Linked DNA regions of Homo sapiens. The protein of the gene in region 1 interacts with the protein of each later gene in a pairwise test. Each region holds a gene or a part of one and is shown on either strand. Other genes may lie near its edges.

Region 1 (3,886 bases):
ACCAGGTGACCTCTCACCCGTGATGGAGCTTTTGTACAGCAGAGCTGTGCTTTATACAGAATGATCAGCTACAAAGAGCTCTTAGGTGCGGCCCAGGCACAATGGCTCACGCCTGTAATCCCAACACTTTGGAAGGCCTAGGCGGGCAGATCACCTGAGGTTGGGAGTTCCAGGCCAGCCTGGCCAACAGGGATAAACCCCGTCTTTACTAAAAATACAAAATTAGCTGGGCGTGGTGGTGCATGCCTGTAATCCCAGCTACTCGGGAGGCTGAGGAAAGAGAATCGCTTGAACCTGGGAGGCAGCGGAGGTTGCAGTGAGCCGAGATGGCACCATTGCACTCCAGCCCGGGCAACAAGAGCGAAACTCCGTCTCAATAAAAAAAAAAAAAAAAAAAGAAAGAAAGAAAGAAAGAGAGAAAAGAAAAGAGTTCTTAGGTGTGAGGCCCTGCAAGGAGCAAATGGCCTGGGCTACCTTCACTGATGCCCTCAGCACCTTCTAAGGTGAGGCTAACACCAGCTCACATTGATGAGCTAGTGCTGGGCCTGGAGCAAAATGTGTATTTCATTTAAGCTGCCCACCAGCTTGTGAGGCAGGTGCATTACCGTGACGGCGGGGCTCCTCAGAGTGTGTATAAGAAGAAAACTGTGCATGGCCAAAGCTATGCTTGAAAACCCTCAGGAAGGCACCACCTCAAGGACCAACATAGCATCACTTAGTAAAGGCAACAGCCTTGGAACAGATGACTCGTGTGTGTGTGTGTGTGTGTGTGTGTGTGTGTGTGGCATTAGATGAAGTAGTAACTTGTGTTTAGAGGTTGCCTTATTGCACAAATATAGTTGCTTTTATACACTGGACTCACCCTCTGCCAATAAGTTGTTCAGTTATGAGAAATGAACAATGTCTGAAACTAAGAAAACAGCAAATTCTCACCTCCTATCTCCAGGGAATGTGCTCTTTGGCTAGAATATATGGCAGAATCAATAGTGAATAAAATATATTGTGGAAACAATAGTGAATGGAATATATGACACTACCAATAGCAATTGTTAAGTTTTTTTTCTTTTTAATTTTTCTTTTTAGGTTTGTCTAGTTGAATGCATCTAAGTTTTATGTGCATATGAAGAATCACTGTTTTCCTATTATACAGATTTGGAAACTGAGATTCCCAGCTTTTAACTCCTTGCCTAAGGTTGCATAGCACAGAAATAGTCATATCAGAAACTGAGCCCTGTCTGCACAGTGTAGCACCTTGTTCAGCCCTGGGTGCCTGACTCACTCACTCCTTGAGGACCCTCTCATGACAACTGTAAAGAGGCAGCTGAAAGAATCCCAGTCTTTGATGGTGGGAGGGGAAAGTGGTTGGAAAGCATTAAAAAAACATGCTCCAGCAGTTCACTGATGTGGGAAATTGTCTGTATTTCAGGTCAACCGTCAGGATAGATTTTGGTCTGCAAAGCCCCAGCTGAGCAAGAATGCAGTGTAGACATATGGGTGCCCAGAGTTTAAAGGAAAATTACTCAGACTCACATTGGAGTTTAAGACCCCTTCATTGCCTCTCCTACTGGGTTGGGGTGACTGGAGCCAGTGGGGAATTACCAACCCTGTGGCTCTCTCTGCATCTCAAGCCTCCAGAGCTGGGCTTCCTTGTTTACTTATTTAGAGCCCAGCAGAGGAAGTGGTAAAGGAAACTAGCTGAGTCGTTTTCTGAGAAGAGACCATATTTGTTCGCAGAGGAAGCCGTTGCTTTCTGGGATCTGGCTACGCCAGAAAAGACATCGGCTCCAACAGGGGTGTTCCACAGGGTAGCTGGGAGTTGGAAGAGCCAAGAACGCCTCCGAGCTCTGGATTTGAGCTTCTCTGCCCATGGGTGAAGCGCCCATGCTCAGCTTGTGAGCTTCTTCCCGGGAGAGCAGCCATGGCACTGAGGAATGTGCCCTTTCGCTCAGAGGTCCTGGGCTGGGACCCCGACAGCCTTGCTGACTATTTCAAGAAGGTAAGCCTTGCTCTTGTGTGAATGGTCATGATGCTAGTGCCCTTGGTGGGCTGAGCTGAGGCTTGACGATGGAATTGGGGCAGAATGTGGGAGGTGTATAAGATAGCAATGGAACCCTATGGCAACTTTACTGGTTGAGTGAGCGCCATATAGACCGCTGAGTTTTCCTGACCATGAGTTCCGGAGAGAAGGATGGGAGCAGAAGCCCTCAAATGAGTATGTGCCTATTATGTGCTAGGGTTTGAATTCGGTGTCTCACAGGCACTGTCCCATTTAGCGCTCCCTACTATGTTGTGAGGTCAGCATTGTTATCCCCTTGACTCAGCTGCAAAATCAGCTCAGGGAAGTGAAATGGTCCGAAGCCCTAGGGACTACATGTGATAGAGGCAAGACTCAAGCCACACCTATCTGGTTTTAAAGTCCATGCTCTGAGATGCAGAGAACTGTTGTAACTGCTAATGAGATCAACGCTACTTACTAGAAAGGGGAGACGTGGTGTCCTGGAGGCAGGAGAAAGAATAGGCAGGGTGGGAGGGCTGGATAGAGGACTATGATGAGCAGTGCCAGACACAGCATTTGGGCTTTCACTGCTCACGACCCTAAGGGGGGTCCTCAAGCTCCCGCCTGGGGCAGTCTCCTTGGAGCCTTATGAGAGTCTTGTGAAGCAGGACAGAAAACTGATGTGAGCCCCAATTTATAGCTATGAAAACTGAGGCCCCTAGAGGAAAAGAGGCTTGTGGCGGTGCTGGGACCAGAGCGTTGCTGTCTTATCTTCTGGACTTAGAGGAAAGGTTGAAGGATCCCTGTGCTTGGTCATTGGCAGAAGGGGACAACGCATCTGCTTGGGCAGATCTCAAGCCACATGACTTAGTTATAGTCCCTCTACCCTGACCATGTGGTAAGATGACTTGTGCGAGACGGTTAAGCTTCTAACACCCTCATCCCTGCAGGCTGGCATCGGATTCTGTTGATATTCCAGACTGTCATAAAGATGAGATTGTAAAGCTAAGATGGTAGAAGTCATCTAATTCAGCTTCGTGTTTTTCCTGGGGAAATTGAGATTCAAGAGGGTAGACGAGGTTCCCTAGGACGTATAGCCAAACCTGGGGTCTATGCATTTCCGAGGCATTTATAGTCACAGCTGTTCTCCCCCAACCTGAAGAAGAAAATGAGAACATGTTGAACTAGGTGTGGTATGGTAGGGGTACAGTTCACAGATCCTGTTTTTTGCCATATTTTGTGCTTTCATTTCTGTTATTTTCCTTCTGCAAGGTCATAATAAACTTAGATTTCAGCAAATATTGTTGCGCAACTGGTTTTTTGAAGGATGTTTCTAAATATCTTGCTCAAATATAGACCAAATAAGATAGGGCAACAAGGTAAAATTTGCCAAGAGGGAATAAAGTGGCATGTTACCTTGATAAGGGAAAAAGAAAGGAATTGAGAATTATGAAGAGAAAGACTTGGGACGGGCTGAGAGGCACAGATAGGCCTAACATTCAGGTGTGACCAGGAGAATTATACAATCCAATTGAGCAACAGAGAATTGATCCCTAAAACTCCCATCAGTACAGGGAGATGGACCACGGGTCAGGGATGGTACAGGAAGACCTCACTGCCTGAGCTGGGGGAAGGGAGAGTTTTCTTCCTGGAGATCTCAGACCCCAGGACAAATCTACAGCACCCAGGCAGGTTCCTTCTTCTGCCATAAATGGACTGAGGGAAGAAACTAGGAGACTGAGGCAAATCTGTGATCCTGGAAGTTCTAGTCCCTCCACAGACTTGGATAGAAACCCTTCAGATTCTGAGTACCTCAGCCCCCTGAAAGAAACTACCAAACGAATGGACCGCAGAGTCATTTGGGAATGGATCTTAGCTGTCAAACATGAC
Region 2 (3,680 bases), on another chromosome or scaffold:
CTTCGTGACCATGAATGGGTGACTTAATCTTTCTGTGCCAGTCCCAATTTTTCAGCTATGATTCTTAGGAAAATATTGTGAGACTGAAATGAGACAGCCTATGAAATACTTGACATATAGAAAAAGCTCGAAAGTGGGAGTGATTTAGAAAAAGAAAATTTTGTTTATAGAATTTGTTTGAGAATTTCATATCAGACTTTAGAATAATTGACACATCCTGGACTGGGAACCACTGGATTGCAAAGTGCCTTCAGACACTAAGAAACTAGCATTCATGAAGGACAGGTATTTGCATATTTGCATATATTGTTCCATTTACTTTCTTTCTTTCTTTCTTTTTTTTTTTTTGAGACAGAGTTTCGCTCTTGTTGCCCAGGCTGGAGTGCAATGGCTTGATCTCGGCTCACCGCAACCTCCACCTCCCAGATTCAAGCGATTCTCCTGTCTCAGCCTCCTGAGTAGCTGGGATTACAGGCATGCGCCACCACGCCTGGCTAATTTTGTATTTTTAGTAGAGACGGGGTTTCTCCATGTTGGTCAGGCTGGTCTCGAACTCCTGACCTCAGGTGATCTGCCTGCCTCAGCCTCCCAAAGTGCCGGGATTACAGGCATGAGCCACTACATCCAGCCTATTCCATTTACTTTCAACAATGCAATGAGGCAGGTGTTAGCATTCTTATTTTACAGATTAGGAAAAGGAGGCTCCAAAAGCAAAAATCAGTTGTCCCTGCCAGATAGGGTCCATTTATTCCACCAGAGCTACTATCCATTCTGCCCTGGGAGGCTGATCTGTTTGGATTAACCCCTGTCTTCCTGGGCCTTATGGCTTCTGTCAGATTCAGCCAATGGGGAGCCTTAGCAGAGCTAGGCAGAAGTGAGGAGAGCGAAGATGTGACACTTATTCCTCTGGCCCCCCCTGTGAGGTCCCTCGGGTAGGCTGTGTCCCTCATGTGAAGGACATTGCTTATTCAAGGTGACCTCTCCTTGACTGTCTCCTACTCGGACTCACTGACCACTCCCTGGTTGTGTCTCCTTTGGCCAGAAGTTGCTCTTAGATTCTACTTACTGCATTACCCTTTGTAAATAGTTCTTCTGTAAATAAGTCCCCTTTAAATTCCTATTCTAGGTTTCCTGGTGGGAACCCAACTGATGCGTGGGCCTGAGGCCACCCAGTGAGCAAGCTGCAGAGCCCGGATTTAAACTGTCTCCAAGGACTTGCCTCCCCTCTGGGCTGGGATGTTTGGGCTTGCAAAGCACAAAGGGAGGCTCTGGGGCAGGGACTGTTGTGGTTGCCTATGAACTCCTCTGCATTTCCTGGTTTCTCTTGCACTTAGGTTGGGCTGGTTGAAGCCTAGGCAGAAGACGTCTGCCTGCTTTTGAGCCAAAGCAGGGAAGAGGCAGTGAGCCATTTCCATTTACGTCTTCCCTGTTGAAGGATATTAGAGGCCCTGGGTTGCGGAGGAACTGCAAGAGGGAAGGGGATGTTGACCCAGCTTGGATTTTGTGTGAGTAAGGAGTAAGCCCTTATCATGTTAAACCATGAAGATTTGGGGGTGTCCTTGTTGCTACAGCCTTGCCTAGTCCGGCCTGACCGATACAGAGCCTGAAGACTCGGACATGACCACTACACATTCCTGGAGCTTCACCTGAGCAGATTCCACGGACATACCCCCTGAGCCTGAGCTTGTGCATGTGCGCGTGCACACCCTGGCAGACAGCCCTCTCCAGGAAACCGTGTGGGCCTCTTCATCATCAGGCAGAAAGTCTTCAGCCCTCTAATTGCCGTCCTCGCTAACTCCCTGGCTGGCTGCCCAGCCTGAGCCCCTGGAGGAGAAATGACTCCAAATTCAGAGCATAAACTCTGTGGCTGATGTATTAGAATGTTCAGCGCAAGAATTCAGATGCCCACAAGTTAGGATTTCAGAATCCCGGTTCCCACAGCAACCGTCCCAGTGCTCCTGCGTAGTTTTCAATGTTACTACATGGGGTGGGGGAGGGGGATTGAATGATGGCTGCAGTGTGTATGACTGTGAGGTGTGTGCATATGAGTGTGTGTGAGGGACTGTGTGCATATGTGATTACGACTGTGTGTGTGAATGTGATGTGTGTGGGGCAGGGGGGCTTTAGCTCTGCTCTGTATCATCTCTCTCTCTGGGTCTGGAAAACCACTTTCTCATGCATAAAGACAAAAATGTGTTCTCCTAGATCAGAAAACCCTAGAGGGCAGGGCCCATGGCTGGGTCAGCCCTGTGTCCCCCACAGTGTCCAAGGCAATGTTTGTTGATTGACTGAATGAATGAGCAGCAGCTGCCAGCTCCAAGGCAGCTGGTTGAAAGCGGATAACCTCGAGGGCTTTATTTTTGTGTCAAGCATTCTCCCATCCCCTATCCCAAGAAGGGAACCTGGCTTCTCTGTTCTCTGACTTCTGTGCTACAGGAACAAAAGCAGAAATTACCTGGAACCGTCTTTCCATCCAGGCCTCATTTCACAGAGGGCCGAATGGAAGATCAGCGTTTCTCAGACATCATTATCACCTTTTTTGTTTTGAGACAGTGTCTCGCTCTGTCGCCCAGGCTGGAGTGCAGTGGCACAATCTCGGCTCACTGCAACCTCCACCTCCTGGGTTCAAGCGATTCTCGTGCCTCAGTTTCCCGAGTAGCTAGGACTACAGGCGCTTGCCACGATGCTGGCTAATTTTTGTATATTTTTTGTAGAGACGGGGTTTTCCCATGTTGCCCAGGCTGGTCTCAAATTCCTGAGCTCAAGTGATCTGCCCACCTCAGCCTCCCAAATTGTTGGGATTACAGGCGTGAGCCACCACACCCGGCCCATTGTTACCACTTTTGCCTGGCCCTGTGCCTCACACTTTTCTTTAAATTGGTTCACTTTTTTGCTGCAATAAATTTATTTGAAAAGGAGCCTGCTATGGTTTGAATGTGTTCCAAGGTTCATGTGTTGGAAATTTAATCCCCCAATGACCTGTGTTGAGAAGTTGGATGTTTAAGAATTGATTAGGGCTGGGCGTGGTGGCTCACGCCTGTAAGCCCAACACTTTGGGAGGCCAAGGCGTGTGGATTACCTGAGGTCAGGAGTCCGAGACCAGCCTGGCCAACATGGTGAAACCCTGTCTCTACTACAAATACAAAAATTAGTCGGGTGTGGTGGCACATGCCTGTAATCCCAGCTACTCCGGAGGCTGAGGCAGGAGAATTGCTTGAGCCTGGGAGGTGGAGGTTGCAGTGAGCTGAGATTGCGCCACTGCCCTCCAGCCTGGCCAACAGAGCGAGACTGTGTCTCAAAAAAGAAAAGAAAAGAAAAGAAAAGAGTTGATTAGGTCATGAGGAGTCTGCCTTCATGAACGGATTAATGCTGTTATCACAGGGGTGTGTTGGTTATTGCAGAAGTGGTTTTGTCGTAAAAGTGAGAGTTCCACCGTCCCTCGCTCTGTCTCTCGTGCACTCTCTGGCCATGTGACGCCTTCCATTGTGTTATGATGCAGAGAGAAGGCCCTCATCAGATGTGGCCCCTAGATCTTGGGCTTTCCAGCCTGCAGAACTATAAGAAATAAATTTCTTTTTGTTTTAAATTACTCACTCTGTGGTACTTTGTTATAGCAACACAAAACAGAGTAAGAGCAAACTTTTACCCTTTCCTGTGAATTTGCTTTTTTACATCATTAA

Evidence for each region. The genes of interacting proteins can lie anywhere in the genome.
Region 2: the proteins of LCP2 (region 1) and CD6 interact in binary tests that used the Homo sapiens proteins (3 or more experiments, as listed by UniProt).

What each region holds. Positions count from the first base shown.
Region 1 is NC_000005.10:170,295,644-170,299,529, reverse strand, and holds the start of LCP2 (lymphocyte cytosolic protein 2), read left to right. Parts: upstream 1-1,752; 5' UTR 1,753-1,918; coding exon 1,919-1,996; intron 1,997-3,886. UniProt on the Homo sapiens protein: Adapter protein primarily involved in signaling pathways within T-cells, as well as other immune cells such as platelets, mast cells, and natural killer (NK) cells.
Region 2 is NC_000011.10:61,002,600-61,006,279, reverse strand, and holds part of CD6 (T-cell differentiation antigen CD6 isoform 1 precursor), read right to left. Parts: intron 2,919-3,680; exon of another isoform or gene 1,335-2,918; intron 1-1,334.